7 linked regions of the Homo sapiens genome follow. The protein of the gene in region 3 purifies or fractionates together with the protein of the main gene of each other region. This does not show direct contact. Each region holds a gene or a part of one and is shown on either strand. Other genes may lie near its edges. The genes, in order: MICALL1, RADX, RAB8B, BLTP3B, MOCS1, MICALL2 and ZNF280C.

Evidence for each region.
Region 1: the proteins of RAB8B (region 3) and MICALL1 purify together in Homo sapiens (affinity purification with mass spectrometry; 2 studies listed by BioGRID and IntAct, with this or other methods). This does not show direct contact.
Region 2: the proteins of RAB8B (region 3) and RADX purify together in Homo sapiens (affinity purification with mass spectrometry; one large-scale study listed by BioGRID and IntAct). This does not show direct contact.
Region 4: the proteins of RAB8B (region 3) and BLTP3B purify together in Homo sapiens (affinity purification with mass spectrometry; 2 studies listed by BioGRID and IntAct, with this or other methods). This does not show direct contact.
Region 5: the proteins of RAB8B (region 3) and MOCS1 purify together in Homo sapiens (affinity purification with mass spectrometry; 2 studies listed by BioGRID and IntAct, with this or other methods). This does not show direct contact.
Region 6: the proteins of RAB8B (region 3) and MICALL2 purify together in Homo sapiens (affinity purification with mass spectrometry; 2 studies listed by BioGRID and IntAct, with this or other methods). This does not show direct contact.
Region 7: the proteins of RAB8B (region 3) and ZNF280C purify together in Homo sapiens (affinity purification with mass spectrometry; one large-scale study listed by BioGRID and IntAct). This does not show direct contact.

Annotation. Positions count from the first base shown.
Region 1 is NC_000022.11:37,926,797-37,930,296, forward strand, and holds part of MICALL1 (MICAL-like protein 1), read left to right. Parts: exon of another isoform or gene 1-143; intron 144-159; coding exon of another isoform or gene 160-330; intron 331-614; coding exon 615-1,030; intron 1,031-3,500. UniProt on the Homo sapiens protein: Lipid-binding protein with higher affinity for phosphatidic acid, a lipid enriched in recycling endosome membranes. On endosome membranes, acts as a downstream effector of Rab proteins recruiting cytosolic proteins to regulate membrane tubulation.
Region 2 is NC_000023.11:106,610,797-106,614,777, reverse strand, and holds the start of RADX (RPA-related protein RADX), read right to left. Parts: upstream 2,801-3,981; 5' UTR 2,698-2,800; coding exon 2,055-2,697; intron 1-2,054.
Region 3 is NC_000015.10:63,188,430-63,192,405, forward strand, and holds the start of RAB8B (ras-related protein Rab-8B), read left to right. Parts: upstream 1-1,176; 5' UTR 1,177-1,195; coding exon 1,196-1,319; intron 1,320-3,976. UniProt on the Homo sapiens protein: The small GTPases Rab are key regulators of intracellular membrane trafficking, from the formation of transport vesicles to their fusion with membranes.
Region 4 is NC_000012.12:100,132,875-100,136,374, reverse strand, and holds part of BLTP3B (bridge-like lipid transfer protein family member 3B), read left to right. Parts: intron 1-3,500. UniProt on the Homo sapiens protein: Tube-forming lipid transport protein which mediates the transfer of lipids between membranes at organelle contact sites. Required for retrograde traffic of vesicle clusters in the early endocytic pathway to the Golgi complex.
Region 5 is NC_000006.12:39,910,463-39,913,962, reverse strand, and holds part of MOCS1 (molybdenum cofactor biosynthesis protein 1), read left to right. Parts: intron 1-127; coding exon 128-189; intron 190-534; coding exon 535-646; intron 647-958; coding exon 959-1,071; intron 1,072-1,588; coding exon 1,589-1,699; intron 1,700-3,500. UniProt on the Homo sapiens protein: Isoform MOCS1A and isoform MOCS1B probably form a complex that catalyzes the conversion of 5'-GTP to cyclic pyranopterin monophosphate (cPMP).
Region 6 is NC_000007.14:1,452,971-1,456,470, reverse strand, and holds part of MICALL2 (MICAL-like protein 2), read left to right. Parts: intron 1-1,043; exon of another isoform or gene 1,044-1,142; intron 1,143-3,500. UniProt on the Homo sapiens protein: Effector of small Rab GTPases which is involved in junctional complexes assembly through the regulation of cell adhesion molecules transport to the plasma membrane and actin cytoskeleton reorganization.
Region 7 is NC_000023.11:130,202,900-130,206,399, reverse strand, and holds part of ZNF280C (zinc finger protein 280C), read left to right. Parts: intron 1-984; coding exon 985-1,103; intron 1,104-1,246; coding exon 1,247-1,283; intron 1,284-1,407; coding exon 1,408-1,423; 3' UTR 1,424-3,500. UniProt on the Homo sapiens protein: May function as a transcription factor.

The sequences.
Region 1 (3,500 bases), on a different chromosome or scaffold from region 3:
CAGCTGAGGCTGGCCTGTCTGGGTGGAAGTGGTGGGCAGCTTCAGGGGACAGCAGAGGAGCATGAGCTCTGGAGTCAGATACAGTGGATTCAGTCCCACCCCGTGCTGGGGCGAGTGCCCTCTCCTCTCTAAGCCTGTTGCCTCATCTGGAAAATGCAGATAATGTGTTTGGAAGCATCATATCCATCAGCCACGAGGAGATAAATTGGTGCCCGGCAGTGCCTGTCCCAGAGCTGGTGGCTGCGAGGGCTGCGTGCTCCTCCCCTCTGCCTCCGCACTGCAGATCAGGGGCAGAGGAGGGGCCACCTCTCTTCCTCTGGCATTCCCAAGGTGGTTTTGCTGTGGGTGCCCTCATGGGGGCTATGGGGAGTGTGGGGAAGTGGAGGCAGCAGGCAGAACGCAAGGCGGGCGGGTTGGACTCGGGTGGCTGGATGCACCTCATGACTTCCGTCCTGCCGGGCGTTTGCTGTTCCCTGGGCCTTGGCCCTGTCTCGATGTGGAGGGCTTGGGTTTCTGGGGCTGCCTGCGGCTCTGTTGAGAGTGGAGCCGGGAGGTGGGGCTGGAAGCCCTTGTGGTGCTCCCCTTGTGAGGTGTCCTGGTGCTCGTCCGCACAGCTCTCCACGCCTCCCGCCTCTCGCACTCGGAGCCGCCCTCGGCCACACCATCGCCAGCGCTCAGCGTGGAGAGCCTGTCGTCTGAGAGCGCCAGCCAGACTGCAGGTGCAGAGCTTCTGGAGCCGCCAGCTGTGCCCAAGAGCTCCTCAGAGCCTGCTGTCCATGCCCCTGGTACCCCTGGAAACCCTGTCAGCCTCTCTACCAACTCCTCCCTGGCCTCCTCTGGGGAACTAGTGGAGCCTAGAGTGGAACAAATGCCTCAAGCCAGCCCTGGCCTTGCCCCCAGGACCAGGGGCAGCTCAGGTCCCCAGCCAGCCAAGCCCTGCAGTGGCGCCACCCCAACGCCTCTCTTGTTGGTTGGAGACAGGAGCCCGGTGCCTTCCCCTGGAAGCTCGTCCCCACAGCTGCAGGTAAAGGTGAGTGCCCCCTCACCCTCACTAAAAGTGACATCCTCTCTAGTGGATGCGGGTCTGGTCTCAGGGCAGAAATGTCCAGGGCCTTTTCTTAATTTTTTTGAGATGGAGTCTCTCTCTGTCACCCAGGCTGGAGTGCAGTGGCGCGATCTTGGCTCACTGCAAGCTCTGCCTCCTGGGTTCACGCCATTCTCCTGCCTGAGCCCCCAAGTAGCTGGTACTACAGGCGCCCACCACCACGCCCGGCTAATTTTTTGTATTTTTAGTAGAGTGGGGTTTTCACCCCGTTAGCCAGGATGGTCTCGATCTCCTGACCTCGTGATCCGCCTGCCTCAGCCTCCCAAAGTGCTGGGATTACAGGCATGAACCACCATGCTTGGCCTTCTTTTTTATTTTTTTTTGAGACGGAGTCTCGCTCTATCACCCAGCCTGGAGTGCAGTGGTGTGATCTCGGCTCTCTGCAAGCTCCGCCTCCCAGGTTCACACCATTCTTCTGTCTCAGTCTCCCGAGTAGCTGGGACTACAGGCGCCCGCCACCATGCCCAGCTAATTTTTTGTATTTTTAGTAGAGACGGGGTTTCACCGTGTTAGCCAAGATGGTCTCGATCTCCTGACCTCACGATCCACCCGCCTTGGCCTCCCAAAGTGCTGCAATTACAGGCGTGAGCCACTGCCCCCGGCTGTCTAGGGCCTTTTCTATCTTTACTGGCCTCTGACTTCCTGAGTGGCCTTGGCCAGTCTATCTACCCATTACCCACTCTGTCCAATGAGGCACAAACCCGTCTGTCCATGCTTCCATCCATCTGCCAGAGCTCCCACCTATCTATCCACCTGTCCACAAACATAGCCTCCCAGGTCTTATGTATCAGGGCCCCTGTTTGCCTCCCATCCCCTCCACTTGCCTATTTGGGTTCCACTCACCAGCCACCAGTCATCCCGTATTGTCTGTCCGCTCTTCCATTCACTCAGGCTCTACTGATGCCAGACCCTGGGCAGAGTTGTATTAAAACCCTATCCTGGCTGGGCGTGGTGGCTCACACCTGTAATCCCAGCACTTTGGAGGCTGAGGCAGGCAGGTCACTTGAGGATAGGAGTTTGAGACCAGCCTGGCCAACATGGTGAAACCCCATCTCTACTAAAAATACAAAAATTAGCCAGGTGTGGTGGCAGGCACCTGTAATCCTGGCTACTTGGGAGGCTGAGGTAGGAGAATTGCTTGAACCTGGGAGGTGGAGGTTGTAGTGAGCTGAGATGGCCCACAGCCTGGGCAACAGAATGAGACTCTGTCTCAGAAAAAAAAAAGACCCTGTCTTTGGCCTCCAGGGGCTCACGATCTGCTCAGGGAGATAGGCATAATGGGCATTTTGGAAGGTGACCTAGAGTAGAGCACAGAGGGGAGGGATTCACTCCCTTCTGCAGAGACCTGGGTCTCCCCGCCATGGAACAGGGGAGCTGGGGTCTCTGAATGCCTCCCATGTGCATGGCTGCCTGGGCTCCACAGGTCATGTGGACATAGTGGTCCCTGTCCCCAAGGCGCTCCCAGCCAGGTCAGGGGGAGGTGCTATAATGTACATGCTGCTGTGTGTGGAGTTTGTAGTGGGCAGGGGGTCAGCCCTCAACAGGCAGAAGGACCCAGGACACACAGCTTTCTTGGGTGCTTCTGTTGTGTGCCATGAGGGGTGTTTACCGAGGAGAGCAGACGTGGCCCTATCCTGTCCTCCTGCTCCCTTGCTGGGCTCTGTCTTTTCTCAGGTGACATGGGCGTGGGGAGGTTCTGGCTGGGCACCCATCCAGGCTGCTCCTGTTCCAGGTATGCTGTGTGCTGTGGGCTCACCTGTTTCTCAGCCCCATACTGAGAACCTGGGGATTGCCTGGGCTCAGTACTTTCCTCTGGGCACCCAGTTCATGAGGGCCCTGTCTTGCAGCCACAGCGCCTTTGGATGGCCCAACGCTCTGCAGGCCTCTGAGCTCCCAAGGCTCATCTGGCCCCAGGTAGAGGGTGGCAGGACAGCCTTTGTGGGGCAGCTGAAGTTGTAGCCTGACCCTGCCCATGTGCCTCAGGCATCGTTGAACCTTCCCTGGTCCCGGCAAGAGCCTCTTGGGCATTGATTCTGGCTCTGCCTCCCACCTGCTGTGTGTCCTTGAGCAGGCCCCATCCTCCTCTGGGCCTCGGGCTCCCACAGATGGTGAGGGGCTGGCGGCACCAAGTGTCCTGAGTGCTCGAAAGACCCCCTGGTTCCTTGGTGGTGGAGGGCACGGGGGTGGGTCACCTTCGGATTCTCGTGTTTCGTGTCCTGGGCTGCGTGAATATTGGTCTGAAGTTTTGGGGCTGAGAAAAGGCTGAAAACCTTTGAGGGGCTCAGGGGCTTTGGGCTGCTTGGCTCTGCTGGCCCCTCTGGGTGTGTTAGAGGGAGGGGGCAGAACCCCGGGTGCACTTGCTTGTGGGGAACCCCTGTCCCACTGTCACCCCAGG
Region 2 (3,981 bases), on a different chromosome or scaffold from region 3:
AACAGAATGAAAGAAAATAATTTGCAGTATATAGCAGACAAAATTTTAATACCCATTAGCAAAGGAATCCTATAAATTAATTAGAAAAATGTCAAAAGATGTATTTAAAAATAGTAAGATATGGGGAAATGGGCATTCTCATATGTATGTTGGTAAATGTAAATTAGTACAACCTTTTCAGAAGATGATCTGTCTATATCCACAAAATTAAAAAAATTAAATACCTTTTAAGCCAGCAATTTCGCCAGAGGAAGCCGTTCAACAGCAATGCTTGAACATAGTAAACAAAAATATGTGTACATTCTAATGATGCTTATCATTGTATGTAATACTAAAACACTAATAAGTGCCTAAAACTACAAATTACCTATTCACATGGGCATGATTATAGAAATTATGGCACACCCATGCTATGGAATATTGTATGTACAGATGTACATGAAAGATGCCTGAGATGTGTTCAGTGGAAATAGCAAATCACACAATGCGACATTAATTCCTTTTTTTTAAAAAAATACACAACAAACTGCTGACAATTTGAGATTTTTAGAAGAAAGGTGAAGGCACTAGGGAAGGTGAAAGAGGTCTTTCACTTCTCCCTAATATTTTATTATTAACAATTTGAAACATATAGCAAAACTGAATAAATTTTACAGTGAACATCAATATGCCCACTTCCTAGATTTTATCACTAACATTTTACTATACTTTGGTGGTATATTTCTAACACAATATACTTTCAAATATACAGATTGGGTTTTATTTTGGCATACAGACATTGCCTTTTGTATTATAAATATGGTTTTAATGAATGAATAGATATTACGACAAAATACATTTTACAAAGTATTAATCCCCTCAACTTTTCTTGTAGGGCACCAGTTTTTCATTTACATATTCAATTCTAAAAATTAAAGTGATCAACATTTAGAGTAGTAATGCACTACTGCCTTATTTCACACTTGAGATAAAATCACTCCATTTTTTCATCCCTGAAATAGCTATCTTGCTTTTTAAAATTTAGTTATTTAAAATATCCTTACCTACACATTTCTATAACATCTTTTTTCCTTACAACTGGATGTGACTATAATTGCATGGTTTTTGAGCTAGTTATTCTTTTACTTTCAAGTTTGTTGCTCTTACACGTCACAGTAAGATTATCCGTGATTTAGCATTGTGACAACATTGTAAAAGGGACTGAAAAGCAGTAATGTAGAAAATTATAGTCTTTCTCCTTCCAGTACTTTCTCTTATTTTATTTTTTGCATTTTATTTCTTTCCCCATTTCAAACGTGTTCATGCCTACAGTACTATCATTCCCCTTAATTTCATCTGTTAGAGAAAAAAAACGTATTTTAGAGCAGTTGCTGATGGCAAGCTAGTGTTTTCAAGCTAACTTCCTACTTCTGATACAGAAAAATTGAAGTTCCCAGATCAGTACTCTTTGTGGTGAGTAATAAGAAACAAGAAAATGAGAATGTCAAGCCTTCCCATAAAAATCACACCGTTAAAAGGTGATATTTACATAACTGTTACACGGCGTTTCAATCAATGTAAAGTATTAAGGAATACATCACGGAGCATCCTTTTTGAATGAAGATTAAAACATGCAAACCCGCAAATTTTTACAACCTTTATGCTAAATTCAAATCTATAAGCTCTTCAACCGACACAACGTACTATTTCCACAACTGGATTGGGAATAAAACTAAGATTAATTCCACCACAATCAAACATGTAACGAACGTATGAGGAATACTGACTCCCACATCAGTACGTTTGCCAGACTGAATTTTAAGATGTAGTCAAACACACTTCCTGAATTGGCCACTTTTGCAATCAAAGAAACAAACAAACAAAAAACACCAACAAAAACCACTGGCTGTGCAAATTTCATTGAGCATCCCTTGGTCATTTAAGAAAACTTGTCTACCTACCACTCCTGGCTTGTAATTAACAATACAAAAGCATTTTCATTTCCTTTCCCGTTCACGCAAGCTCCTGAAAACTATTTTTTTTAAAACCCTCTGCCGTTCTTTCCAAACACTTACCGCTAAAGTTGTGTTCCTCAGGTTGCTTGTCTGTTAACCAGATATCTCCATAGGGATCTTCGTTATTCCACAGCGCCAGGTAATGACTCTTCCCGCCTCTTAAAGGCCTCTCTGGTTTCTCCTGGTGCGCTCTATTTCTGAAGGGAGTTTCTAAAGAAATACTGTCTGAAGTCTCCCCACAGTGGACGTTATCTATGCACAGGATCCCCTGGCCTATCCTTTTCTCATTGTAAAGACATGAGACCCTGGAAATTCTCATTTGAATGCCAACTTTAAGAATATTTTGATATACGAGAGAGTTCAAGCTGGGGTCCAGGTAGCACTTCTCCTGGTACACCCCATCTGAGATCGTCACATCATAGCAATAAAGGGGAGGCTTGGGCACCGTGTCGCGTGGCTCATCCTCTAACAGGTACCTCTGGACGGCCAGCACAGTTACAGGCACCACCTCCGAGGGGGTGACACACTGGCGAGGTGAGTCCATAATCTGCTCAAGAACCTTTTGGATCCAGGACCTGGGCCCTTGGGAACCAGCTCTTCGGATCACCCCTCCCGGGACCCCAGCCCGATTCCTCTCAGGGTTCGGCCAATCTAGCCCTGCATGTGAGGGACCAGCCTCAGGCTGTCCTGACTCACCAGACATTGTTGGATAACTGCGTACCCGCTTCACTCCCAAAAGCTAGTTTGCCCCGTCCAAAGCGGAGAGAAATAAAACCGCGCGCTTTGGCGACGATCGCTACTCTGCCCCTGCTGACAGGCAAGACTCCGCCCCGTAGCGAGGCTGCAAAGACTTTACGCGTGCGCGCGCCAGCTCTCCCACCCCGCCCCTCGCTCCGAGCGCTTCCGACTCGAGACACTGTTACTAGGCAGTCACACGCGCGAGTTACGTAGCAGGTCGTCCGACCTTGTGCCCGCCGGGTTGCCGTCTGGGGGAGGGATGACAGGGGAAGGGGAGGGGGAATCGGTGGTTGTCATGGTTCTCAAAGAGGGAGGGGGAGAGCGCTTGTGGTCCCCTGGAAAGGAGGATGCCTAGAGGCAAGGGAAAAGAGAAAGTGGCAAGAATCAGGGTGCAGAGTCAAAGCTCAGGGATTTGGGGGTTTGGGCTTTGGGCCAGGAACAGAAAGTAATTTAGAGTTGGTTAACATATGTTAATGTTATAACATGGGTTTCCTGTAGTATGAACAAAACCAGATAATTTATGCAGAGCCTCCAGGACAGACTCTAGCACAAAAAGTCCTCAGTAAACATTAGCTGCTATTGCGATTAGCATTAGCATAATTATCTGTAGTGGCTCCCTGAGTGTAGGGTGGGTGAATTAGTGTTTAAGTGCAAATGAAAATAGAAAACTAGAACTGGCTTGTAAAGGGCTGCCTTTAGATTAGACTTCTTAAAATGCAGCTAGTTTTAATATAATACCTGGCCTAATATACATCTAGGGTAGAGATTTCAGAAACTTTGTTTAATGTTTGTTTGTTTAATGCAAGGCATATATCAGGAACGAATGTAAAGTGAAAAAGCTGATAAGAATAGTAAAAATTAAGGATAAAATATTTAATAGATGTACTTAGATCCAGTATACATAGAAGGGAGTAATTGTTCTAAGAATACTTTTTAAGATGGTTATGAGCTGATTTTGTTTATACTAATTTCCTTTGGCTCTCTATTTTATCATTCTTTATTCACTATTTATGAAGTCTCTATATGAGGTAGGCACTGTTTTAGGCCACTGGGGATAACTGTAGTCAGGGTCCTTCCCTCAAGTTTCTTCTCATTGCTTGGGCTAAAGAGCCCTGCCGTTATTAATACTTAACTAATTTACTCATTCTATACAGATTTCTTGAGTGTCTGGTCTGGGCAGGGTATAGCCTTGCTAGGGAGACCAAAAAACATAGTAAGGGGAAATAAAGTGGAGGGAACAGGAGTTAAT
Region 3 (3,976 bases):
TTGGGTTTCTGCCACTAGCAAATGAAAGGGGACTGAACAATACATCCACAAAACAGAGAATTAGCCTAAGACAATAAATAATAAAGGATTAACTTGAGTATAACAGAATGCTGTTTCCTCCCTATATTCGTCATCAATTAAGTGAGAGCCTACTGAAGAGTAATGAATATTACCATCACTGCTAACAGTGCCTTATGGGTTTCAAAGAACTTTCACATTTAGTATTTAAGTTTCACTGGAACCCTATGAAGTATCTTGTTTCATATCCATTTTACAGATGAGAAAACTGAAATGTCCAGTGCCTGTGTGACTTGTCACAGCGGTTTTGCAGCAGAGCCAAGACTAAATTCAAATCTTACTCTCTAAATTCCCGTGGCCCGCCTCACAGGATGCTTGCAGTTTCATGGGGCACAGACCTGTAGCACAAGACTTCCCAGATTTAAAAATCCATCCTCCTGCGAGGAGAGGGGAGCGATCAGCGTAGCAGATTCTCTAAATACTCATTGTATTTGGCTCTGGTCTGTGTGGCGTGAAGAAGGGGGCACGAGTGAGGTTCGAGTTAGCATGGTAACCATTCTTTCTCAGCTCTGTGACTGAGGGGCTGCGGGAGGGGGTTATAGTGGTGCTGGGCATGGCCTCGGGGAGAAGCTGGATAATGCCCTCTGCAGATAACCCGTAGGCTGCGCCACAGCAGCGCCAAGGAAAGAAAGCATCTCTGCTCCAGGTCTCGGCGGAAGAGATGCGGGAACTACGGGGCTCTGATTCTGAGGTCCTGGATTTGGAAGGCGTCTGCACACAAAGAAATAACAAAGTTAAGTTCCCGCGGCTCGACCAGCAGAGTACGAAACGGGGCCTCCCTTCCCAGCTCGGGTGGAAACGCCTCCACCCTGTCACCCCGCCCATAGCAGGTCTTTTATCCGCTGGAGCCGCCTGGACAGTCCTCGCGGGGCACGCCCGAGGCTCCCCGGAGGAACTACAAGTCCCATGAAGTCCCGGGGCGCGGGCGGTGATGACGAAGCCCTCGCCGATTGGCCGCACGGGGCGGGGCGCGCAGGCCTTCTCCGAGAGGAGGGGCGGGGCGTGGGGCGGGGCGAGCAGCGGCGGATTGGCGGGCACGCCCCCTCGCCCGCGGCCCCCTCCCCGCCTCTCTCCACCGCCTCCTCTGGCTCCCCGGTCAGAGGGCCGGAGCGAGAAGATGGCGAAGACGTACGATTATCTCTTCAAGCTCCTGCTGATCGGCGACTCGGGGGTAGGCAAGACCTGCCTCCTGTTCCGCTTCTCAGAGGACGCCTTCAACACCACCTTCATCTCCACCATCGGTGAGGGAGGGGCCGCGGCCCGGGACCGGGTAGAGAATTGGGGGGCGGGTACTAGGGGACGGGGAAAGGGCGGGGGGCGCTTGGGAGCCCGGGAGAGGAGACCCCGGGGACTGCAAGGTGGCGGGGGCACTGAGAGGGGCGAGGGCGTGAGGGAGAGGGGCGAGGGCGTGAGGGAGAGAGGCGAGCGGGAACGTGAGGCTAAGGGCGAAGGGGGAACTTGGGGGCAAAGGAACGGGAAGGGGAACAGAGGAACAAGGACTAGGGGTATTGGGGGAACGAGAGGGTTCGGAGACTGACAGGGAGGGGTCTTTGAGGGACAAAATGTGTTGGGGGGAAGACTCAGGAAATCTCATGTAGAGAGAAGGGGATAGTGGACGTGCCAATGATTAAAAGACAGGAGAGGAAGGAAATGTGAAGGGGGAAATGAGGGATGGGGGCAATGAGAGGGATGTGAAGTAAAGGGACAGAGGACACAAGGGACAGAGAGGTGAGAACCAGGCAACTGGAAGGGAATTCAGGGGAATGAGCGGTCAGGAGGTGAGGAAGAAGGGGACGGCTGGCCACAGGAGGTCTGGACTGAGATGTCGTAGGAGGGGACAGAAGAAAATTGTAGGTGGAAGAAGAGTTCAAGGGATCAGAGGGCAGAATGAGGATACTTGATGGAGAAAGTAAAGGGATCTGGGTGTGAGACAGAAAGGAAAAGAGGAAGCAACATCATAGTAAAGGGAGGTTGAGCAGAGAAGACAGAGGAGATGGAAAAGAGAGGAAATGGAAAGTAGTGGGGCGCAAGACTTGCTATAGTAACTGATTACCATTTTCTCTTCACTTCCTTTGGATCAAGTGCAGGAGAAAGCAAAATGTGACTAATGATGGAATAATGTCTATAGAGCGTTAATTTGTTCTGTGAGTGTTAATGGATGTTAAGGGAATTGGTGACTTTTGGAAATGATGTGGTCAGGAAAATATGGTTCACCTCTTTACTACCATCTCCTGAGAAGCAAGACTTCTCAGTATTTTAAATCCTTCGGTTTGAATGTTTAACAGCTTCTCAGCCAAGGAAATGAACTTACATTCTACCTGCCTCCCTGTATATTTTGCTTTGGTTCTAATTATTGTTAAGTGAATCACAACATGTGATATACCTCTCAGTTACTTCCAATTGAATCAAGAGTTTTTCTGATCCTGGCTGGGAGCTGTCCTTTCTACTTTTGTACTGGAAGACACTGTGTTCAGGTAATAAGATCTCTTAACTTATCATAAACTGAAGACCAAGTCAAAGCTGGTTTTAAGCTGTTTTAGAAGTGACCACCTTAACATCATTTCTCCTGTTAAATAGTTGCAGGTTAATTAAGTACCTTAAGAATACCTCAGCTTTTGGTTGTGTTGGTGATGTTTCTGGCCTCTAATAGTGGCTTATTTAGTCATCTTTCGTATGGTTCTTACAGCATATTTCACCATGAATTTCTGGGTTGGGAAATAATAGAGAGCTAGTGCTTTGGTAATACGTGTGTTTAAATATTTGTGTATTTTTAAGGATAATTTATCTTTTTTTAAAAAAAGAGTATTTGGTATAGAACACTCTTTAAGTATTAGTAAAGGCTATGGTTTGTTTGCTCATTCTGGATTCTTTCATATAGATTGAATGGTCTAAAATCTCCTGGGTGTTATGATGTCTGGGCTTAGGGAAGTTTGAATTGCAAGTTCTTGGCAGTCAGTCTTGAGTGGGACTTTTTCTTTTCTGAAAAAGCAGATTTTAAATGTCATCTCTCAAGTATATTCCTAAGATTTGGTGGTAGCTGCTGGTACAGCAACTAAAGGGTGTTAATTTTTGACATTTGTATTAATTTCAAAGCCTCAAATAACAATTTTTCATTGTTGAATGCATACTGCAGTACAGATGGTAAAGGATAATTTCTAACAAGTTGAGTGGGTGTCCTTTTGTCCATTCTGTATTTGAGCCTCCCAGAAGTATCTCCTGCCTTGAAAGTAAGTGAATCTCGCTGATGCTGTTTTTGTTAAGCTTCTTGGACGACTTGCTTGTTTGTAATAGTTTTATTCGTTTTCTCTTTTTCCCTTAATTTTTGTCCCATGTTTCCTGTAAGGGTATCTGGTTCCTTTTAAAATAGTAGCTTTTAAAAATTACTTTTCATTTTGAAGGGTTCAAGTCTATCAGTGGATTTCAAAAAATGATGGAAATGAGGTTCTTTGGAGGGTGACAGCTATGAAGGCATGAAAACCAGTGTCCTGAAACAGATTAGAATAGGAAGTGAACATGAAAAGGAGGTGAATCTCATGTGACATCTTGGTCTTTATATTTTCTGTGAGGTGGATGTGGTAAAAAGAGGTGTGAGCTGTGTCTTCAGTTGACGTGGAGGAGGGGAAATCCCATACCTCTTATTTAGCCCCAGAGCTCCAACAGGAAGTGGTAGCACACTGCCTTCAAACTGCAGAATTTATATACACACTGCCTTCAAACTGCAGAATTATATAGAAACCTAATGCTCTGCAGTCAAAATTAAGCTGGGAAAATAAGGTGAATGTTAGCACCATTCTGGTTCCACAGACTCTTCACTGATTACAAGTATAGATTTTGAGTGTTGACATCTCTAGCAGCCACTCCCTCCATGCCCCTCACCTCATTCCCAGGTGATCTGAAG
Region 4 (3,500 bases), on a different chromosome or scaffold from region 3:
GTCTGGCATTGCGGGTGATGTGAAAAAGGAAGAAAAAAATAAAAAAAATTTTATTGCTATATGAAATTTGTTAGATTTTGCAACTAGGAAAAAAACTGATTTAAATATTGTTTTTTGGATTATAAATTTACTTGAGTAGGTTTGAGGTGTTTTTTTTTTTTTTTGAGACAGAGTCTCGCTATGTTGCCCAGGCTGGAGTACAATGGAGCAATCTCAGCTCACTGCAACCTCTGCCTCCTGGGTTCAAGCAATACTCCTGCCCTAGCCTCCTGAGTAGCTGGGATTACAGACATGCACCACCACACCCAGCTAATTTTTGTATTTTTAGTAGAGACGGGGTTTCACCATGTTGGCCAGGCTGTTCTCGAACTCCTGACCTTGTGATCCACCCACTTTGGCCTCCCAAAGTGCTGGGATTACAGGCATGAGCCACCGTGCCTGGCTGACAGTATTCACTTTTAAATAATCTCTAATAATGTGGATTTTGACACTGTATGTACTAGTTGCTTATTTAAAATAATTTAATGAGTGCCTGCCTTGTACCAAATATTGTACCATACTGCTGGGGATGTAGCAGTTAACACACTAGGCAAAGATCCCTGCCCTCGTGGAGTTTACGTTTTAATCAGAAACAGATAGTAAGTACATAAATAGGTGAAATACTGTGTAAGTACAGTATATCAGTGTGTTAAATGCTACTGAAAAAGTAACATAGGGAAAGGGGATGAGAAGTACAATAAATTGGGGATGGAGTTTGCAATTTTAAATCTGGTGATTGGGAAGGCTTAATTGACAAAGCAATATTTGAGGCCGGGTGTGGTGTCTCACCTGTAATCCCAGCACTTTGGGAGGCTGAGGCGGGCAGATCACTTCAGGCCAGGAGTTTGAGACCAGCCTGGCCAACATGGTGAAATCCTGTCTGTACTAAAAATACCAAAATTGGCCGAGCGTGGTGGTGCGCACCTGTAGTCTCAGCTACTAGAGAGGCTGAGATGGGAGAATTGCTTGAGCCCAGGAGGCAGAGGTTGCAGTGAACTGTGATAGCACCACTACACTCCAGCCTGCAGAGTGAGACCCTGTCTCAAAAAAAAAAGAAAGAAAGAAAAAAAAGAAAGCAATATTTGAGAAGAGACCTGAGAGAGATAGTGGGAACAAATGCAAAGGGTCCAGAACTGGGAACTTGTTTGATATTTTGAAAACATACGAAGACCACCAATATAGGTGGAGAGAGTAAAGTGAGAAGAGGAAGATGCGATCAAAGAGAAAACAAGGGCCAGATCATGTGGGACCTTGTAGTGACTTTGACTTTTACTCTGAGATTGGAAGCCACTGGAATGCCTTGAGCCAAGGATCACTCTGGCAGCCATGTGGGAATTAAATAATAGAAGCACAAGGGCAGAAACAGGAACCCAATTAAGAGATGTTAACTATTTAGGTGAGAGAGAAATTGGATTGAACGAAGGCAGATGCAGTGGAGTTGTTGAGATAGTGATAGTCAGGTTCTAGGTGTATTTTGAAGGTAAAGGCAGGATTGACCGACAGGTAAGATGTGGATTGATAGAGAAGAGAGGAGAGCAGTAATGGGTGACCATCCAGAGTTTTTGACATAAGCAACATAAGCAATGGAAAAGGTGGAATTGCTATTAACTAAATCGGAAAATTGGAGAAGACTGCAGGAGGAGCAGGCTTATGGGAGAAGATCAGGAGTTTGTTTTGGATATGTTAAGTTGGATGAAAGTTCGATTTTTTTTTTTTTTTGAGACAGAGTCTCGTTCTGTTGCCCAGGCTGGAGTGCAGTGGCACAATCTCAGCTCACTGCAACCCCTGCCTTCTGGGTTCAAGTGATTCTCCTGCCTCAGCCTCCCGAGTGGCTGGAATTACAGGCAGCCGCCACCATGTTTGGCTAATTTTTTTTTACATTTTTTATTTTTAGTAGAGATGAGGTTTTATCATGTTGGCCAGGCTGGTCTCAAACTCCTGACCTCAAGTGATCCACCTGCCTCAGCTTCCCAAAGTGCTTGGGATTACAGGCCTGAGCCACTGCGCCCAGCCCAAATGTTAGATATTTAATTGGAGATGTCTTCTCTTTTATTTGTGATCTAATTTAGACTATACATGTTTTAGTCTGACAACAATGGAAGTATGTTTGTGGTTATCCTTTGGCTTATGCAATAAACAATTACTGGGAAGCGAATTGTGAGTTGAATTTTCAGGGGTGGATTTTTTGCTATTGTTGTTTTTTTTTATCCTTTTAAGTACATGCACTACAGTAGTCCTCCTCCATGGGCAGCACACTTCAAGACCCCCAGTGGATGCCTGAAACTGCAGATAGTACTGAACGATATGTATATTGTGTTTTTTTCTTTATGTACATCCCTCTGGTAAAGTTTAATTTATAAATTAGTCATGGTCAGAGATTAACAAAAACTAATATGTAATAGAAAAATTGTAACAATATCTGTATATTGTAATAAAAGTTATATGAATGTGATCTCTCTCTTTCTCAAGCTATCGTACTGTACCACAGGTAACTGAGACCGTGGAAAGGGAAATCTTGGGTAAGGGAGGACTACTGTATATAGCAGGTGTCTTTCTCTTTCATATTAATTTCCAACTAAAACCGGATACTGATTCTTGTTGGGTGCTTGGTCTAGGAGATGTTGCAATATTAGCATACTAGAATCCTGGAATCAGAAGGGATTTGTTCCTATCTCAGAGAAGGAAATTATTAAAACATTGACATTTGTGACTTGTCCAAGGTCTCACAGATAGTGTTGAATGGTAAAGTCACTGATCCAGTACCCTTTTCATTGATTTTTCTGTGCTGCCTATTAAGGTGTTTCCTACTCGCCCCCACCCCACCTCAACAGTTTGCTTTTCTTTTTACCCAGTTTTCAACACTACTCTTGTTTTACCATCCTGCTGTAGTATCCCTTAGGAGATTCTTTTATGACTTGAGAATCATTTGACTCTGCGGTCCTTTGAAGTTAGAGGAACATAATGTTTTGACTCAGCATTTCTTGAAAGTTGGGGGATGTCTCAGGCCATTTTATGTTGCTATAAAAGATTATGGGGCTGGGTAATTTATTTTAAAAGACAGGTTTTATTTGTTTATTTATTTATTTATTTTTTTGAGACACAGTCTCACTCTGTTACCCAGGCTGGAGTGCAGTGGTGTGATCTCGGCTCACTGCAAGCTCCGCCTCCCGGGTTCATGCCATTCTCCTGCCTCAGCCTCCCGAGTAGCTGGGACTACAGGCACCCACCACCACCCCCAGCTAAATTTTTTTATTTTTGTAGAGACAGGGTTTCACCGTGTTAGCCAGGATGGTCTCCATCTCCTGACCTCGTGATCTGCCTGCCTTGGCCTCTGAAAGTGCTGGGATTACAGATGTGAGCCACCACGCCCGGCCTATTTATTTATTTTTGAGACAGAGTTTACTCTGTTGCTCAGGCTGGAGAATAGTGGCACAATCTCAGCTCACTGTAACCTCCACCTC
Region 5 (3,500 bases), on a different chromosome or scaffold from region 3:
TACTCTGGCCTGTTTTAGAAAACGTTTGCCAATCTCCAGACTAGATGGGCTCTGGTGCTTTTCTGTGGGGGTGTGGGGGAAGAGGAGAGAGGACAGAAGTTCCTGGATCCTTGTTTCTCCCTCCCAGGCTTCCACAAGGTCATGGAGGGCATCCACAAGGCCATCGAGCTGGGCTACAACCCTGTGAAGGTGAGGCCGTGCCCCTGCCGTAGATTCCCGACTTCCCTCCACACTGCCCTGGCCTTCCCCTCACCGCCCCTTGGCCCACTTGAGAGCCCTCAGCTCTGGCCAGCATGGCTGAAGTACGTGCACCCTTCCACCTCTTCTCTCCCTGCTGGTCCAGCCCTGCCGACCCTTGAGAGAAACGAGAAAATCAGTGACCCCAAGGAATCCCGTAACTTAGAGAACTGAGTGGGAGAAGCAAGGAATGGGTCCCTGAGTGGAAGGCCTCAGTGAGTGCCAGGCCCCCAAGGGTCATCTCCACAAAAGAATGCAGGGGGCACAGCCCTCATGGTCCCATTGTTCCCCGGCCAGGTGAACTGTGTGGTGATGCGAGGCCTTAACGAGGATGAACTCCTGGACTTTGCGGCCTTGACTGAGGGCCTCCCCCTGGATGTGCGCTTCATAGAGTATATGCCCTTTGATGGTCAGTGACCAGGGATGGGTTGAGGGAGGGAAGAAGGGGTTGGGCCTGCAGGTCGCATAGTGTGGCTCACCCACTGGGTATGGCTGACCTCAGGGGCAGTGAGTCTAGGATTATGATGGGCTGTTGGTGGCTTCTCGGAGCCCGCTGTGGATGTGATTCAATCCACCAGTTTTAGGCAGAGCCCCCGTCCCTCCCTTCCAAGAGGCTGGAGAACTGATTGCTATGCTGTGGCAGGGGATGGACTCAAAGACCCCGGGGCCCCTTCAACTGTGATTCAGAAGCTCCCCTTGCCTTCCCCCATCCCGAATACAGGCAACAAGTGGAACTTCAAGAAGATGGTCAGCTATAAGGAGATGCTAGACACTGTCCGGCAGCAGTGGCCAGAGCTGGAGAAGGTGCCAGAGGAGGAATCCAGCACAGCCAAGGTTAGGGAGCAGGAGGGTGTGGGGCAGGCCTGGAGGAAGGTCGTACCTCCACCCTAGGATGGAGAGCTAGCAGGGAGCTGCACTGTGGTGGGGATGCTGTGATGTGGGATGGTACCATTTAAGCAGGAAGCATCAGTGCTATCACAACCACCTCCCTGTTTCATGGATGAAGATGTGGGCTCGGCTAGGGTGGGGGGCTCAGTAACATGTCAGAGGACACACTCCAGGAAGTGGCAGAGAGGGGTGCTCATCCCGCTTCCACGCAGACTTTTCTAAACATGCTGCCCACAGGTCCCTGCCTTAGCAGCTTTTATCTAGGGCAAGCCAGGCATAGGTCAACCCATGGGTCATCCATCCTACCAGAGTCTTCTATCACCTGAGGGCCTTGGGTGGAGCTTCACGTGGGGTCCTCTGGGAGAGGGTTGAGGAGTGGAGGTTCTGATGTCATGGAGTGAGAAACTGGGCTCAGTAGCCCATCCCCTCCACTGCCCTTTTGCTCCCACTCTCCCCTGCCCAGGCCTTTAAAATCCCTGGCTTCCAAGGCCAGATCAGCTTCATCACATCCATGTCTGAGCATTTCTGTGGGACCTGCAACCGCCTGCGAATCACAGCTGATGGGAACCTCAAGGTGAGCATCCCCTCCTCCACAGGGACCCCTTGCCACCTCTGTGTTCTCATGTCTCCTCCCACCTGTGCTCCCTGATTGGAGAGGAGGCTGGCAGGGCACGGTGTCGGGGGAGGTGGTTGGTGCAATAATGTCAGGTTTGGGGGCATGATGGGAGCAGCAGGTGAGGGTGAACTCATGGCCCCTCTGGAAATGTCACCCTGATTCCTTCCTTCCTTCTGTGGGGCCCTGAAGTAGCTTCTGGTTTATTGGGAGCTCCTTTCCAGCTCTCATGGAGCTGCAGGATCAATGTGCATTTTGCCTGGCCCCCGCCATGGTTAGCCCCTTCCACCAGGCCAGGGGCTCAGCTCTGAAACCAGAAATGGATGTTACTCATATCTAACAAGCATGTCCTGTGCATTCGTCCCTGTGGGGGATGTCGGGACCCCTTCTCGTCAGGGCTATGCAGACTCACAGGCAAGACCAAACAGAGGCAATGTGTGGCAGCACGAGAGTCCTTGCCACACGCGTGGCTAGATAGCCTGTGAGAGTGCAGGGCATCAAGAGCACTACAGACCTCAGCGAGCCTTGAAGAATGGGTGGGGCAGAAGTGGGGAGGGGAGGGTGCATACATAGGGTTCATACTGGTTGGGCGGGCTAGGGCAGATTAAAGTCAGCTATGGGAAGACTACATTGTAGGGGGCTTTGGTTCAGAATGTGTTCTGTGGACAATAGTGTGCTGCGTAAGGTTCCTGAACAGGGGAGACATCCCCCATGTATGTTTTATAAGCCACAGGCTGGGTGTGATGGCAGGAAGACCAATTAGGTGGCCATTCAGTGGTTCTCCAAATATGTTAGAGTGTGAATTGAAGGGAAGGAAGACTCAGAGAGCTTGGTAATGTTCGCGGAAGGAGAGGAGGAAGGCATCAAGGTAGCTGGAAGGCCTTGGGATCTTTTACAATTGTGGGAGGGTGATGATGGTGGGTTGGGTTTAGATGCATGCAGTTTGAATCCAAAAGGAACCATCCAGCAGGTTGCTGAAAAGCTTGGGGGTTTTTCTGGGCTGGAGATACGGAATTGACTTGGACTAGAGGTGGTATCTGTATCTGTGAGGTCTTGGCAGGAAATGGAAGGTGGGATTCTGAAGAGAATGTAATGAAGAAGCTATTTATAACATATAAGATTAAGGGAACCAATAAAGGATATTGAGGTACTTGGGACCAGCAGCAGCAAAGTGCTGTTCCCACTTAGGAAGGGCAAGGGGGAGGCACTGATGTCACTGGGGCCCAGGAAGGGCTGGAGCCTTAGAAGAGAGGCCACCTCATTGGCACTTGAGCTGTGCAGAGAAGCAGCTGCTGCCAGATACATCAAAGCAGGGAGGAAGTAGGGGAGAAATGCCTGAAGATTGTTCTTTCCCTTTACCCATTGATCTCCCAGGCAGGAGCCAGCTGGGGGGCGGGAGGGGAGGGTGGTACCAGGTGAAGTCCACAGGAGGAACCTCTTTGTTGCAGAGAAGGGAACCTGGAGGCTGGTTGGGGAGCGAGGCATGAGGAATAACAGGCACGCTGAAGCAGTTAGACCTATCCTAGATTTCACTGGTATCTTCTCCAGTGGTCTCTGCCTGCAGAAGCTTCTCAGACATTCTTCTTTCTCTGTGGCCACAGTGCCTTGTGCAGAGCTGGCACAGAGTAGATGCTTCATAAGTTTTGGTGGAAGGATGGTAGGTATATTGATTTCTGGGGCTGTCTCATCCATCCCTCTTACAGAAGCTGAGAAGCATTGAGTGAAGTTTGACCTTAAGTTGTCATGCCCAGCAGCCCTCAGC
Region 6 (3,500 bases), on a different chromosome or scaffold from region 3:
GGGGTTAAAGGGGTGCACCCCCACACCCAGCCGATTTTCATATTTTTTCTAGAGACGGGGTTTTGCCATGTTGGCCAGGCTGGTGTGTAACTCCTGACCTCAAGTGATCCATCTGCCCTCTTCAGCCTCCCAAAGTTCTGGGGTTATGGGCGCGAGCCACTGCGTCTGGCCTGTGTCTGGCTACTTTCACTCAGCATATTGTTTCTTTTTTAAATTGAGATGGGTTCTGGCTATATTGCCCAGGCTGGTCTTGAACTCCTGGCCTCAAGTAATCCTCCTGCCTCAGCCTCCCGAAGCGCTGGGATTACAGATGTGAGCCGCCGCGCCTGGCCCCTGGCTCTTTGGACGTGCCTGCCTCTGTGCCTTCATCACCCCCATCCCGTGCCCTCAGCCTCTGCTCCCTGCCGTACCTCTGGATGAGGTGGTGGCTGGGGTGGAGGTCTCCTCATGCAGCCCTTGGCTGTCCCTCCTGTCCCCAGTAGTCTTCAGGAAGGGAGGAAACGCGTGTGAGGGACAGGCACAGACCGGTTGTCCTCTCAGGGCAGCTCTGAGGTCAGACTCTGTGTGAGGCCCCGCCCTTGCCACCTCATTCCCCTCTCCTTCCAGTGAAGACCCCTTGACAGCAGAAGGGTGGACGTCCTGTCTCCCTGTCTGTAGCTCTGCCACCAGGAAGTCCTTCCCTTTGTCTGGCCTTAGTCCTTCCTGCTGCACGCAGAGAGCACTTCCGCTTGGCCCTCAGGGAGAGCAGCTGTGAAGGAACCAGCTCGGGCGCCAGGCCAGCCAGGTGGGGCACCCGGGCTCCTGGTTCTGCCTCTGCCCCACCGACCCCGGGTGGAGGGGGCGGGGATCCGGACATTCCTGTGTACCATGTTCCGGCTCCTTGAGCCACGTGTGACCACACTGGGGAGCCCCACAGGTACAGAGAGGTGTCCGTGAATCTCCGCTTTACGGCCAGGAAACAGGATCGCCCAGCCACGCCCACCAGGAGGTGGCAGGGTGGGCGGGTCCCCTGCCTGGTCAGCCTGCCTGTGCCCGCCTGCCCTGTCTCACCTGCGGCTGTGGGTTCTCTGCAGCCAGGCCTCAGGGCGCCTGCCCCCGGGCGCTGTTTCCATACTGGTGTCACAGGGCAGCTGGGCAGCCAGGTGAGCTCAGAAACCACCCAGAACAAACAGCCCCACCTCCCGCCTCACCTCCCTCAGCCAGTCAGCCTGTCGGGGCTGGAGCAGCTCTGCCATGGGCTGGCTCCTTTCATTCCTGGGCCCAAGCAGGTCTCCAGGCACAGCCCTCGGGCAGATGGGGCAGGGGGCACAGCGTGTCTGGGCTGGGAGGGAGCAGGGCTGGAGGGAGGGCAGGCGTTGTGCGTGGCGCAGGAAGCCGTCCAGCAGGTGGGAGAACATTGCGGCCTCCTTCTTGGGGTTCGTGGCTGGGGGCATTTGTCGGATTTGTGGCCAGGCCTTGGGAGGGTGTCGTGAAGTTGGGTCTCTGCTGCACCCTCAGTTCCAAGGCAGGGTCCCTTAAGTTTTCCTGGTCCCTGCAGCTCTGGAGGCGGGCTCAGGGCTGGGCCAGGAAGTGGGGGTGGCTGGGGCGGCCGCTGTGCAGTGCATGGAGCCCTCCAGCAGTGGCTCCCAAGGGTGGCGGGGCTCCCCGAGACACCACTATTGTTGGGGGCCAGGGGAGAGACTCACGCAGAGGCCCCCACCCAGAAGCTCCCAGGCAGTGCCCTCACTTCCTGGGCCAGGGCCGAGGGTGGGCTGACCTCCTCTCCCACGCGGGGTTGGGTCAGCAGGAAGCTGCTTGTGGACAGAGGCCTTCTGTTCCTGCCCCAGGGCCTGTAGCCAGACCTCTGTGGCCGCCTCTGGCCGGAACCCTCCAGGACGGGCGCGGGAGGGGGCTGCCTGTCCACCTACTGCAGGGGGACTGCCCAGGGCCCCACACTTTCCTTCCAGAGGCCCAGTGTGCAAGGTGGGGGCTCTGCGGCCTCCCCTCCCCAGTCGTCACCGCCCCCTGCCCACCCCCTCCTCTCCTGAGCTCTGCCTGGCCATGTCCTCGCTGTCTCTGAGGTTTGCTCCTTCCCCGAGTCCCCTCTCTGCCATCCCGACTGTGCCATCTGGTCCCTGTCTCTCTTGGGCCTCCCTCCACCATCTCCGCTGGGGTCTTCCTCTCTCTCTCCAGCTCTCTCTGTCCGTCCACCTGCCTCTCCCCACTCCCTCTGCTCCCTTCTCCGTGGGATTCTCTCCTGATGTGCTGGATGTGCCTCGGCTGGGGCTCCTTCCCTTCCAAGTCCTGCACCCCCCCGCCCTCCCCACTCCATGGCGGAATCTTGTTCCAGGAAGTAAACAGTGTGATGTCGGCCACCCAGGAATTTGGAGGGGGGTATACATTCCCAAGAGCCCCCAGAGGCGCCGGGGCAGAGGCCGGCTGGACTCCATGGGCTGAAGTTGATGGTCGTGGGTCAGTTAGAGGGGTGGTGGGGGCAGGTGTGGCCGGGCAGGGGCACGCACGGTGGAGAGTTGGCCAGGGCAAATCTTGTGACCGACACACAGACGGCAAATTCATTCCTTCAGCCAGTGTTGAAAGAATAAGTTACTGCCACAGAAATCTCACCAAGCACAGAACAAATGCATCACACGCATTTATAGGGCACCGACTGTGTGCCTGGCCCACGGTGTGTGTCTTGGAGCCGGGCCATGGTATACCTGATTTTAATTCTGAGGCTTCAAATAAGAGAAGATTAAACCCTGGAGGATGCCATGTCTCGGAGGTGGGCAACCTGCAGCCCCCATCCCACAGCCTGCAGGTTTGCAGCGGTGGCTGGGGCTGTGTCCCAGTTCCAGCCGTCTCACCATGGGTAGCTGGTCACTTGCTGAGTGGGGGGAAGCTGATGCATTTTTGTCCGGCAAGGACAGGGGTGTCCACCTGCTCAAGCTGCCCTTGCAAGGTCCCCCAAACGGGCGGTTTCAACAACGGAAAGTGTCCTCCCGCAGTTCTGCAGGCCAACGTCCCGGACGGAGGTGTGAGCAGGGCTGGGCCCTCCTGGGGGCAGGAGGGAGGATCTTCCCGGCCTCTCTCCTTGGCTCTGGGGTGGCCGTCTTCGCCCTGTGCCTTCACATCCTCTTCCCCTGTCAGTTTGTATCTGCATCCACATTTCCCTTTTATGAGGACACCAGCCATGGGACCAGGGCTCCCCGCAAAGAACCCTGTTTGAATTCTCTTATCTCCAAAGGAGGCAAAATGAATTCTCACCTCCAGAAAGACCCTGTCTCCAAATAAGGTCACGTGGTGGAATTGGAGGTTAGGGCTCCAATGTGTCATTTTCTTGGGGGGCTCCTGGAGACACGAGTGGGGTCTCCACCTGGCGATGTTGGTGGGGCTTGCGAGACGGTTCTGGCGGCGATTTCTGCCAGCATCGGGCCCCTGAGCTCAGCTGCTCAGGGGCCCCGGGGGTGTGAGCTCGGGGACAGCAAGGTGCATCTGGGGAGGGCCTGGCGGGTGCATCGGGC
Region 7 (3,500 bases), on a different chromosome or scaffold from region 3:
GCCAGACTCCGTCTCAAAAAAAAAAAAAAAAAAAAAAACTAAAGAAGTCAATCCAAGGTATGCACTGGTTTCCTATAGAGGTGAAATATTTAAGTTTAAAGTATCTGATGAACTTCAAAAGTATATGTATGCTTTGTTAATAAACTGATAATTACAGGATTTTAAAACCTTCACATTTCTTTTCTAATTTTATCCTCATTTGACTAAGATACTAGATTGCAGAATCCACACACTGTACCTTTTTTGTTTACTGTTATATCTACAATACCTAGTAGTACAGTGTGGGTGAAGAAGGTTGTCAGCAAATGAATATTTATATATTTCAGTGAATGAATATTATATCCTTGCTTTGTAAGTAATAACTTGCACACATTACTTAAGTTGTTAAGGGAGACTTGGCTTTGAGTCTCTTGATGCCTAGCTTTCAGCAACAAGTTGAGAGGTGACAATTTATAAAGCACTAAATGTTAGCGTAATTTGAATATGGCGATGCCATTTTCTTTTCCTTTTTTTTTTTTTTTTTTAACATAGTCTCGCAGCTGGAGTGCAGTGGCACAATCTTGGCTCACTGCAACCTCCGCCTCCTGGGTTCAAGCAATTCTCCTGTCTCAGCCTCCCAAGTAGCTGAGAGTAGCTGGGGCTACAGACTCACGCCATGATGCCTGACTAATTTTTGTATTTTTAGTAGAGACGAGGTTTCACCATATTGGTCAGGCTGGTCTCGAACTCCTGACCCCAGGTGATCCATCCACCTCTGCCTCCCAAAGTGCTGGGATTACAGGCATGAGCCACCGTGCCTGGCCAGCGATGCCATTTTCTAGAGAACTATTTTAAATATATCAAGTTTATATAACAAAATTGGAAAATGACGGTTGTGGAGACTAAAATGCAAATCAAGTTAGTACATGGAAAAGTAATTATTGAGCTCATATGGATTTTCATAAATGATAAGAATATTTCTTACTGTCTTCTTTTTTTTCATAGGGGCATTACTCTAGTGTGCCTTAAATGTGATTTCCTAGCTGATTCTTCCGGCTTAGATCGTATGGCTAAACACTTAAGTCAACGTAAAACTCATACTTGCCAAGTTATAATAGAGAATGGTACGTATATATAATTGTGTTTCTTTGATTTTCTGATATTTATTTCAGTACTTTTGATCGGACACCATATGGACCCATGTATTAAATTGATAGTCTCACTCTTCATATATGCTATTGTAAATGTAAAACTCTTTTGATTTCAGTTTCCAAAAGTACCTCAACTTCTGAACCCACTACTGGGTAAGTTTAATTTTCCTTCAGTGCATTTTGCTTTGATGGACTTTAGCACTGTTGTATTTTTTAATGAATCATTAATATTAATATAAATGAAAAATATTAAAGTTTTTTTTTTTTTTTCTTAAAGCTGCTCATTGAAATAGATTCCTGCTCCATGGAGTTCATGCAACCTGGTGCAAGACAAGTTGGAAGTTCCTAAGTTCAAAGTTCTGAAGTATTTTCTCACACAAAGGGCAGTTAAACAGCCAAGTTTATGACACTAGCTCTCATTATTCAGCTCTTTTCAGCTTTCAGATGCCACTACATTGTTATTCCACCTTATCTTTGCGTCAGGTTAACATATCTTAACATATTTTTTTCTCCAGTTGGCTCTCTCCAAAAATGCCTTTTGTTTTTCTCTGCTATACTTGACTTGCCTTCAGAATATTACATTCCAGATAATATGACTGTTCATCTTTTTCTGTCTGTTTTGTCTGCTTTCTTAATTTCTTATAAGTCTTACATGTTTAGGTCAGATAACCATTTTTTCTTCATTCCTTGTTCATTACTGTTCTATTTTTCATATTTTTCAAATGAAGAAGCAACACATAAGTTTCAAAAAATATCCAGGGTACTCCTGGACAGTGTCCCCTTTTGATGGACACAACTGATACCTGTTCTTTCTTTCCAAGAAATGTGAATTATTTGACTGTGAGACGTCCTCTAGTTTGTGGCCTTCAGAAATCAGATCTTGGGGAGAGTCCCTTCCTACCTGACTGACCTCCCATAAGGCTGATGCTGATTTGGCCAGAGATGACCTCAAGGCCCACCAAATAGAGCACAACTTCCCATTGGGAGCTTTGGCTTTTGATCTTAAGCTTATGGGTCGATTCTAACCAAGAAAAGTCCATGAGATCAGTGCTTCAACATCCAGGTTGACGTTTAACCATTTTGGCTGCTGCTCTTTAATTTTCCTCTAGCAGGCATGCAGTCCAAGGAATATCAAAATTCTGATTGTATGGGAACCAAGGTTACTTTCTTGTTCTTGGATAAAGAAAATTTCTACAATTACAGTTCCCAAAGACACAGTTGTTCATGTTATTTAAAGTTTTATCCAGTATTCTAGGAATTTTCAGCAATACTAATATTCTCATTTTTAAACATTTTTTACATTTTATTTTGTTTTATTTTGGTAGCTTGGTTTTATATTGTTTTTAGATCAGTGCTTCAACATCCAGGCTGACGTTTAGCCATTTTGGCTGCTGTTCTTTAATCTTCCTCTAGCAGGCATGCAGTCCAAGGAATATCAAAATTCTGGTTGTATTGGGAACCAAGGTTACTTTCTTGTTTTTGGAAAAACAAAATTTCTACAATTACAGTTCCCAAAGTCAGTTATTCATGTTTTCATTTAAAGTTTTATCCAATATTCTAGGAATTTTCAGCAATACTGATATTCACTTTATTTTTTTTCTTTTTTTAAGACAGAGTCTTGCTCTGTCACCCAGGCTGGAGTGCAGTGGCGCGATCTTGGCTCACTGCAAGCTCCGCCTCCTGGGTTCACGCCATTCTCCTGCCTCAGTCTCCCAAGTACCTGGGATGACAGGCGCCTGCCACCACGCCCGGCTAATTTTTAATTTTTTGTATTTTTAGTAGAGACAGGGTTTCACCATGTTAGCCAGGATGGTCTCGATCTCCTGACGTCGTGATCAGTCCGCCTCGTCCTCCCAAAGTGCTGGGATTACAGGTGTGAGCCACTGCACCCGACCGATACTCACATTTTTAAACTTTTTTTTTAATTTTATTTTGGTAGCTAGGTTTTATATTGTTCTTAAATTTATTTTACTCTATTTTATTTTTCCATCACTTCTTTGTCCCAGATTCATGAAATTTGCTGATGTCCATTTTATGTCTACTTTTGAACTCTTCTCTTTGTGTTTGTTTTGTTCTTATTACAAACTCCAAGACATTTCTTAGAATTGTCTACAGATTTCGTGTAGCTACTTATTGGTAGCTTCTTAATTTCATACTTGTCCAGACCATTAGACATTATTACATGCTCTGTCTTGGGCCTATCATTAACATTAGCTTAGGGATTCTGATTTCAAAGACATAAAGAATTGGCAAAACTCTTCTTACAGAACTTAAAACAAGTTTTAAAGTTACATTTCTATACATCTAATACATAATACCTTCTTAGCCATTAATGTAATTCCTCTGGATAAAGATAATATATTCAAAAAA